Linked DNA regions of Homo sapiens: region 2 is linked to region 1. Evidence: fine-mapped expression QTL. A gene starts in region 1. The other region holds a variant in brackets. All regions are shown on one strand. Distances are from middle to middle. Region 1 holds the start of ALS2CL (ALS2 C-terminal like). Region 2 has its middle 36 kb from the start of PRSS50.

The links. PIP is the estimated chance that this variant, and not a neighbour inherited with it, causes the effect. A credible set is the group of variants that fine-mapping cannot tell apart.
Region 2: its variant is the best candidate, but not a certain one, in a credible set for the expression of ALS2CL in whole blood (TOPMed, PIP 0.64).

The regions. Positions count from the first base shown.
Region 1 is chr3:46,691,100-46,696,467 of GRCh38, forward strand. It overlaps ALS2CL (ALS2 C-terminal like), which reads right to left and starts at 2,580. Exons shown (of 26, transcript NM_147129.5): 1 at 2,544-2,580. It also overlaps a transcript of TMIE not described here. RefSeq lists enhancers at 1,144-1,935, 3,517-4,306 and silencers at 2,380-2,674, 2,405-2,654, 2,805-2,884.
Region 2 is chr3:46,751,534-46,756,901 of GRCh38, forward strand. It overlaps the pseudogene PRSS43P. Among named protein-coding and RNA genes, the nearest start is that of PRSS50, 36 kb to the left of the region's middle. The variant G/A (reference allele first, on the strand shown) is at 2,062.

The DNA of each region.
Region 1 (5,368 bases):
GCCCCCAGGACACAGGGGGCTCCAGGTCAGCTCAGGCAGACAAGGAAAGCCCAGCCAAGGGAATAGGGGTGCAGCCAGGCCCACCTAACTCTCACCCGTATCTCCCGAAACTGCTGGAATGGAAAGGCGCTTTGGGGGTGACCTTTTCACTCTCAGCTGGCAGTCAGCTGGGGTCTAAGCTAAGAGGTGAGGATATCCAAGCCTGGTTGGGAAGGTAGAAGAAAGGGTGAGGCTAGGATAGGAGATGCAGACTAGGAACCAGATCAGTGCACGTTGAAAAGATACTGCAGTAAATAACTCGCTGCTAGGAAGACTTGAACACCAACATCCCTACACTCTCCGGGGGGCCAGCACCATGACCCCAGCCGACACCATACCCTGGCAAGGAGCTCTCTGACCCTAGAGATAGCCTCTCCTCCTCAGGCTTCCTGTCCCTCGTCCCCACTGCCCAGTCTCAGCTGCTCCCCCAGGAGCAGCCCTCACCTGGCTGCTCAGCCCTGGACATGCTTCAACTTATCCACAGCCTTACTCCTCTCTGTACCTCAGCCACCCCTCTACGAAATGGGGGTTCAACCAGATCACAGCATTTTTTTCTTTTTATTTGTTTGTATTTCTTTCTATTCTTTTTTTTTTTTTTTTTTAGAGATGGGATCTCACTATGTTGACGAGGCTGGTCTCAAACTCCTAGCCTCAAGTGATCAACCCATCTTGGCCTCCCAAAGTGCTGGGATTACAGGCGTGAGCCACTGCGCCCAGCCAAAGAGGATCACAGCTTTTCAAACTACTTAAGTCTCCCCTCAAAAGGACAAACAGGTGGAAGGGGGCTTCTCTGGGTGTGGGGATCTGGTCCTTAGACTCCCCACCCCACAAAGCAGCCTATGACTCCGGGGGTGAGTCCTCCAGACTCAAGTTGGCAACTGTTAATCTGGGAGTCTTCCACATCTGTGGCCCCAAAGGGATCTATAACCCTGGGAAACTGAGTCACACCACCCAGAGGAACGGGCAGAAGTTAAGCATGGCTGGTGAGGCAGTGGGTTGGGGGAAGGCCGCAGTGGAAGCTGGGATTCTGGTTAGGTGACCCTGAGGGACCCAGCTCCCAGGCTAGGGAGTCTGGGGCTTCATCCTGGAAGTGATGAGGAGAGTGTAAGTGCAGGGGTGAGGCAGCGTGAATGTGCATGAGTGTGCACGTTTGCAGGGCAGGAGGAGGAGGTGCTGAACCTTAATATGAGGAGGATCCTGCAGGAGTACCCCCCTCCCCAACCCCTGTCCCATCCCTAACCTTCCCCCTTCCAGTCAAGGGCATAGCTTCCTCACCCTCTCCCTCCCTCCAGTTCAAAGGTTCCTTAGTGACAGGCTGTGCCTAATGTACAGATGGGGAAACTGAGGCCCAGGAACAATGGGAGGGTCCAGAGACCCTTGTGTAGAACTTGTGCAGGGCTCAGACCCAGACTTCTGGCTCCAGCCCACCAGGTTCACCTAGCTAGATGGCTCAGAGAGGGTGGGCAACTCACCTGAGGCACAGAGCAAGATCCTGACGGGCCCTGCCTCACAGCTGTCCTCAGGCAGCCCTGATGCTCACCACGGGGTGCGGTGGGGTGGGGCAGGGTGAGGACAGAACTGGCCAGTCACGGCGTGCCCAGGTGAGTCAGCGGCTGCCCCTGTGGCGCTCTAACCAGTAGCCAGACCTGGTCTCTCCTCTGCATTCCTGGCCTCTGTCCACGCTAGGTCCCTCCCGGGCAGGGTCACTGGGGCCTTCCCTGTCCTCTCCCAGGCCTGGCTCCTTAGGCCCCTGACACACCTTGTCGTGACACTCACTCACTCTGGTATTTCCTGGTCTGAACAGGCAGGGAAGTTCTGCCTGCTGTGGAGGCTTTTTCATGGGCTGCCGTGGCAGCCCCTTCGTTGTCTGGTGCCCAGTGGGGGAGAGTAGAGACACGCACTGCCCCAGGGAGGGGGCGCTGAACTGTCACACCTGATCCCTCAGTCTCATGCTCGCCTCTCCCCGCTGCACCCTTCCTCGGCCCCACCATGGCTACAAGCCTCTTGTCCTAGACAAGCACCCCTCCCTGCTGTCGCATATGTCCCAGCTTCCCTTCCTCTCCCTGCCCAGGCACACACTCAGTCGCTGGAGTTTCCCAGACCCGAGCTCCTGTTCCGGCCGCCAGGCATTTGCCATGCCGCTCCCATGCGAAAAGGCCACCTCCTGGAATCCCGGGTCGGGCCCTTCCGCCCTAACCAGCCGGCGTCACCTCCTCCTGGCAGTCTCTCCTGCTGGCTGGGGCCCCGTGGCCCTGCCACCACGGCTCAGGTCAGGCCCGGGGCGCTGCCCCGAACCCAAGCAGGCTAGCAGCCAGGCAGGGAGGACGACGCTGTGAGCGGGGTATCTTACGAGGGACTCGGACGGCCGGGGGATGACTGCCGCCGGGACCAAGGAGCTGGGCGGGGACCGCAGCAGCCGAGGAGGCGGGAGCCCCCACCTGGACGAGCTAAGCGTGGAGCGCAGACACCCGTCCGCAGACGCGCGCCCTTCGTCGCGCCCTTACCTGAGCGCTGTGGTTGCCCCGCGCCGGGACTGCCTGTGCGGCTCCTCGCTCGCACCCCCACCCTGCCCCCTGCCAGTCCCGCCCCCTGCCAGCCCCGCCCCCTTCGCCCAGCCCCGCCCCGCCCCGCCTCCGGGTGTTGCTCTGGAGTTGCGGGGGCCACGGGCGGGCCACCGAGGAGCTGGCGCGCGGTATTGATCCGTCCCGCCGCCCCAAGCCTCTCCTGAGGCCTCCCTCTGGCGTCCCCCGGGATCCGGAGGCCCCTGGGACCCGGCGCGGGGAGGAAAAGTGGGAGTCTTGACCCCTCCGCCCCCTACGCACCCACGCGCACACTCAGGCTCGCCTCTCGCGCCCCGCTTCCCCTGCAAGGCTCCGAGGCCGCCGTGCCACCACCTCGCCCCGCCAGTCAGTCGCTCTGCGAGCCTGTGGTGCAGCCCCGTGACCTCCCGGGTCTGCCCTGAGTCACAGAAGCCAGCACACGCGGAGCGCTGTGTGGGTTCGTGGAACTTGGAGCCTGTAGAGGGGTATACTGAGGCGCCCTGCGGCCCCCTGGGCTGGGTGTCCACGGCCGGCCGCCCCTCCTGTGCGACCTTGGGGAAGTCCCCTTTCCTCCCCACTCCTGAGTCTCAACAGGCCTAGTAGAGCATGAAGCCGGCCGCGTGTGCTTTGTGCGAAGGCCTGAGACCTTGGAAAGGGTGGCTGAAGACTTATCTGGGACAGACCCCCCGGGAGCGGGAGGGAACTTAGTTCAAACCTGTAACAAAGAAGCCCCCCGTCAGCAGCCTGATTCCCCCTCTGGCCACCAGGTTAGTCACCCATTGCTCTCAGTGGCACTCAGGTTCCAGTGAGGGGGAGGCTCAGGGTCCAAGGCGGCCGTGGAAGAGCAGAAAGGGTGGCCCACCAGCCCCCTACTCAGCCCCCTACTGAGGAGGTGGGAGGCATCCCCCAACCTGCCAGGCTGAAGAGACCCCCAGTGGAGGTAAGTAGGGGCCTGGGGCCTGCCAAGCTCATCCCCTGGCTCCCTTGGGTTGTTGCGAGGTGGGAGTTTACTGTCTGCCAAGCTGCACATCACCCCTTGGAGGGTTTCCAGCCTGGGACCCTTGTCTGAGTGACTGCAGGTCCCAGTGACCTCACCCTTTTGCCCCACATTGCTCTCCTCCTGGGTCCCAATCCTGCAGAGCCGCCCCTTCCTGCTTCTCCATCCCTCCCCACATTGCCAAAGCCCGCCCTAGCTCTGGCCTCCCCTTTTCCAGCCTTGTTTTCTTGCCCCCTTCTGCACCCCCTGCTGCCTGAGGGGCTCCACTCCCAAAGGCCTTGCTCCTCTGGTCCCTGCCTGCTAGAGGTGTTGCTGTGTTGGTGGGTGGGGGCTACCTCAAGGAGGCTTCTGGTGAGGTGTCCCTCTGGCCCTCTGGGAAAGCCTCCCCTCCCCATGCCCTCCACCCCCAGGCTCCGGACCTTGGCCCCCACTCCCCTTCACAGCCCTGTTGGCCTGCGGGACTGTCTGCTGGGGCACTTGGCTCCCTGAGTCTACAGCACAGCCTGGCAGAGCCACCGCCCCAGCAGGTGGAATGAACTGAGGCTTCAGGTTCTAAACAGGCCTCCAAGGTCTTCCCTGTGGGGATCCTTTGTGCCTGTGGGGCAGTGGGAGGTAGCGGTACATTCTGGAAGAGCTGGTATGGGGCCTTGTGCTGCTTTCCTCTTGCTGTGTGATCACAGGCAGTGTGTGGCCTCTCTGTAACGTAGTGCCCCTGCTGGTGAAATATCTTACCTGCGCCTCCTTCTCGGGGTTATGTGGGACTCTGAGAGGAGGGGTATGGTGGGTTCAAGGGGCTCCTTCAGGGATGAGCACGGTTTAGAGGATCTATGGGTCCCCTAGAGCATGGGTGTGGGCCACCAGGCATCCCTGGGGCTTAGGAGGGAGGCAAGGGCTGGAGAGTGGCCATGGCCTCAGGAGGAGCATATGGCCTCACCACTTGTGACGAACAGGGACAGGTGGGGCAAGGCCCCGAGCAGGACAGATCTGATCTTATGCTAGGTGTCTCTGGGCCTCACTTTCATCATCTGCACGTGCAGCTGAGGGAAGGCAGTGCTGCCTGGGCTCGAGCAGGAAGGGAAGGGCTCCCACGGCTTCCTCCCTAGAGCACAGACTTCCTGTTCAGCCACATCTAGGGGAATAGAAAGGCTGACTGAGCTCTGGGCAGCAGACCAGTCCTTCCCCCATTCCCTGGGTGACCTCATGGGCATTGCAAGCCCAGTTTTCCTATCTGCTAAATGGGGCAAGACCTGCCCAGCCTCTCTTACAGCTCATTCTTGGCTTGGGGCCAGGTAAGGCCTCTGGTAGTGCCCAAAGGACAGCCTCTGCTGAGTCCACCTGCCTTCAGTCCCCTGCAGCACAGCCAAGGGCCCCTAGCCAATCCCACCACAGATGTGTATACCCACCCACACCACTCCCACACCCGCTGCACACAGATACAATTCCACAGTCAGGGAATGGGTGGGTCCCTGTGCCACATGGACCCATCTACCATTGAACCCACTGGTAAGGACTCCAAGTTGCACAACTCTAGTGGCAGCCCTGGGTATGCGTGTGCAGATCATGTGCCCATCCACAGGGACACAGACCTGCACACTACTCCAGGGAACACACACGTATGTGAATGGCACCTGTGATTCTGGAGCCATTGAGACTCATACCCAGCCACACACAAAGCTGCATGCAGAATGCACATGCACTCCCATGTGCACCAGTGCCTTAGTACACAAAGCACATGCTCAAGCACACGCAGGTCTGACACAGGCCTGGCCCAGCCCCACAGCTATTCTGAGCT
Region 2 (5,368 bases), 60 kb after region 1:
AAGGATGCTGTCTTTGGATCTGCTAGGCATGGCAGAGATTGGGAAGTGATCAGCTGGACTTGGAGCCACATTCCCTCCCCAGCCTGGCACCTAAGTGGGTCCACATGAATAGAGGTGATGTGTGCCACTTCCATGCCAAGGCAGTCAACAGGAGGTTGCCTTTTCTATTCTTGTTAATGCAGAGCATTGCTTCTCAAAGTGAGGTCTCCAGACCAGCAGTATTAGCATGAGCCAGGAACTTAGAAATGTACATTCTTTAGGTCTTTCAGGTAAATGTACATTCTTGTTAGAAACGTACATTCTTTTAAGGTCTTTCTACCTGAAAGACAGAGAATGTAGGCCCCGTCCCAGACCTACAGGATTGAAAACTCCAGGGGTGGAACCAGGAACCAGCAATCTGTAATTTTGTTTTAAGAGATGAGGTTTCCTCCAGTCCCCCAGGCTGGAGGGCAGTGGCATGATCATATATCTCTGCAGCCTCAAACTCCTGGGCTCAAGACTTCTTCCTGCTCAGCCTCCAGAGTAGCTGGGACTACAGGCACAGGCCACCATGCCCAGCTAATTTTTTTTAAGAGACATGCTACATGCTCCTGGCCTCAAGGGATCCTCCTGCCTCAGTCTCCCAAGTAGCTGGGATTATAGGGATAAGCCACTGTGCAGGCCAGTAATCTGTATTTCACAAGCCTTAGGGGATTCTGATGCAGGTAAAGCATTAACTACAGGACTGAGAGCAAGCCACGAGATGGAGAAAGCTACCTGCTGACCAAGAACGCTGTAATGGGATGTTCTAGGGAAAAAAAGTTAAATTTGTTTTATTAATCTATGAATAAATCAGTGGTTTCTTAAAGCAGGTAGTGCTATATTCATTAAGAGACTGGGTTTGATGTAAGCTCTCAGTCTCTTGGCCTCAGCCTTCCTCAGGCAACAGAAGGGACTGATACAGACTGTCCACTGAAGCCCACCCATACCTGGGGGTTAAACATTCAACCCTAGAAGGGCAAAGGGCAAGAGGCTGGGAGGGGGTTGATCAGTAGCTAGACAGAGAGACTCCAGGACACCAGACTTTGTAATGAGGGGAGAGAACCTATGTATACTACAGTGAATCTCTCTTGCCCTTCTCCCGGTGGGAACGCCTATCTTTGGTAACCAAGTGGGAGGGAGCAGCAAGGAGAAGCAGTAGATGAGGAGGAATGTTTCTCACACCCGAACTTCACTCCTGGGCCTACTTCCAGTGTCTCTTGATCCCCTATCCCTAACTGTAGAGACTGTTAAGCTCAACTACAGAGCTCCCTGCAGAGATGCTGATGGCTATAACAGGCATACAGGGAACAAGACCCATTGGCTCAAATCATCCCTAGAGCTCATGTCTGAGGAAGCAGGGCCTCACCTGTCCTTCTACATTTTAATAAGAACCACAAATAGCTTCCTTAGTTAAATGGGAAGCCAGTTCTCTATAGAGTATGTTATATTCAACCAAACTCGCCAGTGAGCAGAGCTTCAGAAACAGGAGACTCTCCAAACATTTATTCAGTTGATTTATGAAAACTCCACACTTCATAACTGCCTCAACACAACTTGTGGTGTCCCTGAAAGTGGCCACTAGGGCACTGAGGAAGGGGGTGCCAAGAATGGGTTGCTCCAAAAGAACTAGTGTGGCAGAGGCTGTCCACTCACAGATGGATCCACACTGGGCTGCAGGGGAACTTCTCCCAGCCCCAGACAACTGAGCCAGAGTGGAAGTCCCAGGCCTCACACGTCTGCAGGGACCTGGTAACGCCTCCTTCACTCTCTGTGAGCAATCACCCAGCTGGCTGGTTTCACAAAGTCTCAGGTGAGAGCCCTGAAACCAGAACCACATCTAACGCTTGCTTCACCGTTGATGATGTCTCTTCTTTGATAGATGTTCCTCCAGATATTGACGAGTCACCGTGGCCCACCTGGCAGAGCAGCTGGCCCTCTAGACCAGAGCACCAGGCAGGGGCACTTTCCAGGCCCCAGTCTCCCTGCCATGCTCTATTGTACGGATCTCCAGAGGGCCCGTGGATTCCAACTGGGATTTGC[G/A]GAAAGGGCATTGAGAAGGAGTGGGAAGTTGGTCAGAGGAGACACCTAAGTGTGAGACTCAGAAACAGCAGAAGAGTGGAATGGGGTCTGATCACGAGGTCACCAGGATGCCCAGGGGCATCACCAGACACAGGACTAGGATGAGGAAGTCTTTGAATTCAAACAGGAAGCTTGTCTCAGGTGATCAATAATCCATTTCTTGTAGAAACTAACTTCTGTGTAAACTCCAGGGTATCCTTTGCGACCGCAGCCAATGCCCCAGCTCACAATCCCCACCTGGACCCATGTGCCATTTAATTCACAGACCAGGGGCCCCCCAGAATCTCCCTGGAAAAAGAAAGACAGTCACTGTAGGAAAGAAATAGGATCCACATCAGAGCAGGCTAATTGCACTGCAATGCGCTACAGAGCTAGGCACTCAGGGGGCTTCCCCAGGAACCCCTAAGACCCTCCTAGCCTTAGGTATCTGTCAATATGAGATCTGAGAATTGACAATTTCCAATAAACCAAAATCATGTACCTACTAAAAAGGCGTGTTCCAAAAAACGGAATATACCTAATGAAATCGTGCCTACTCTGAGACAATAATGAGTCAAGTGCTAACCTGAGTACACTGCCTGTCACACAGAAGGGTCTCAAAACATGGAGCATGTATTGTTGGTGGGACCTGCCTGATTCACCCCTCCTCCCACTCCAGGCTGTGTCAGTTGCTCTCTCCTGAAGGATCAGGTAGGCTGCCCAGGAGAGCCTTGGTGGCTTGTCCTCACATCCCATTACCATGAATAAGGGTAAACAGAGGGGCTAGGAGATAACCCAGGCCCTACTGGCTGGGAATGAGGAAGCTTTGAGGAGACAATTGCAATGCTGAGGCAGCAAGACGCCCATGAACTGACCTGACAGGCATCCTTCCCTTGGTCATTATAGCCACAGACGGTCCCCCTCGTGACCATTTTACTCTTGGATATATTCTTGTTCTTGAGCATCTCACAACATTTCTCATGACGCATAATGTTTAGCTCAGTCTCCTGAAGAACAAGTGGCATTGGTCCTGAAACTGCAAAGACACAATTTACAAGAGAGTGGATCTTCACAAAGGGATAGAACAGGAGCCCCCAGTGCCCACTCTGAGTCCTGATTGGTGTGTTTAACACAACTGCCCAAATTAAAGGAAGTCAGGGCAGTGGACAATGTCACCACTTGACATAGAAGGAAACTCGAGCTTAATGTTGACATGGAGAAAGGAAAGGACAAGAAGCAAAATCAAGACAGTAAAAGGAAAAACAGATCAGGAGAGGGAGAGGCAAGGCCTTGTCAGCCTGAAAAATGGCAACCAAGTATCTGTCACTCTGAGTATCAGCAGAAATGACAGGCTGTCCTGTGCATCAGTAAAGCATCTTTACTTTCTAGAGCAGGATCACAGACTCTTAGACAGGTAGTGCCTCTCCCTAAGGATAGGAGTCCCCACAGCCTCACTGGCAGGGTTGCTCTGGCTTGGCCTACACTGCTAGGGTGAAGAAGTTCAACCCATCAAGGCAGGTCCTTCTAGTGGGGGTTGGCTCCTATTGGCAGACAGCTCATCACCCTGAGCTGAAATTTACCCTGAAGAGAACCCACTACACTTGGCCCCCAAGCCCCAAGGTCCCAATATGACGACAGAAATTCATAACATAGTTGTTAAATTACTTCCTGGCAGCATCTTCTCCACCCTCCTCCCTCACCCACCTGCTAGAAAATGGCCTCCCTGCCTCTCCCAATAGCTTGCAGGCCAAGCCCAGCCCACCAGACTGTCCCACCTCAGCATCCTGCCTGTCTCACCACTCTCTGACACTTGGCCCCATCCAGTCACCCAGCACTCTGTCCCAGCTTCCACTTCAAAAAGCTTTTCGGGGAGGCACGCAGGCTGGATATGTGAGGAATAATTCACAGAGTAGGCGAGCAGAGCAAGGGCAATGTCGCTTGTCAAAGTGGCAAAATCAAAATTGCTAGGAAAAATGATGTCTCAAACTGGGATCACCAGTGCCTCTTTGGAACCAGCATGCAAGTCAGGGTCTCCCAGCTTCACCTTGTATTCCAAATTACTGTTGAGAGAAAAGATGGCCTTCACAGAGATCCTGGGGGGACGTCTATGCTCCCCTTCCACACCTTCCAGGTGCTTCCAAGCCTGGTCCCATCTTCCTATGCCAGCCAGCAGCCACCTCCCTCCCTCCCAACCACATCCCCTCAGGACCCCTGACCACTTTAGCCAGTGGTCCCCAGATCGGCGGCGGCGGCAACACCCGGAAACTTGTTAGAAATGCAAATACTCAGGTCTCACCCAGACTGGATAAAAACTATGGGGCTGTCACCCCCTTTTACAGATGAGGAAGAGGAAGCTCAGGGAAGGGGACAGACTGGCTCCAGGTCCCACAGCCTGATCAGGGCCCAAGCTCTGAGCCCCAAACACTCACCTAAAGACACAGTGGGCGGCAGTGAGCACCCAGCGCCTGTCGATGAGGGAGCCTCCGCAGTGGTGTATGTTGCTGGTCTGCAGGCTCACCTGCCAGGGCCACTTCTTGTTTGGGGCTGGCAATCCTCCAATCATCCTTGAAACACGGTGGCCACAGGCTGGTGGGCTCAGTAAAGAGAGGGGACTGGAAGTGAAGCCACTACCTTCCCACCACCCCACCAGGCTGCCCAGGGCGGAGGCGGGTTATCTATCCTCTCTCTCAAATCATCTAGGTCAGGGTCTGACCCTCAACCTCCCTGAGCCAGGCTGTGTCCCCTTTGACCTACCCCGCAGGCCAGGACAGATCTAGCACCAGAAACAATACCCTGAGAAAACTGCCTTCCAAGGTCAGAGATTCCGTCGGATTCCAAGGCTTCTCCCACTGTAGATGCTGAAGTAACCCAGGATCCTGGAGGCCCTGCGGTCGCTGGAGACCCTGGAGCTACAGAAGTTTCTGGAATTTTGGGGAATTTCGGGTGCACAGGAGACGTCCGGGCTTCTGGGCTTGCCGGGGTCATTCTGGAATCCTCCTCGGGTCGGTATGGCTCACCTGGTGAAGACGGGGACCCGCGGCGAACAGGAGCTGGCCTGGCGGCGCCTCCTCCGCGTCTGCCTGTTCCCACAGCGCCCCCACTGCCACCCCACACCCAACGTGGGTGCAGCCCAGCCCCGCCCTGTCCACTCCCAGCCTCACTGAGCAGGGGTTGAAGGAACTGAAGCCAGATCAGGAGGTGGAGGCTCAGGCGTGTGCCTCCACGGCCCCTGCGGAGGCCGTCCTGGGACGCCATGGGCACCGTCAGCACGCCTCGTGGTGCCCCCTCG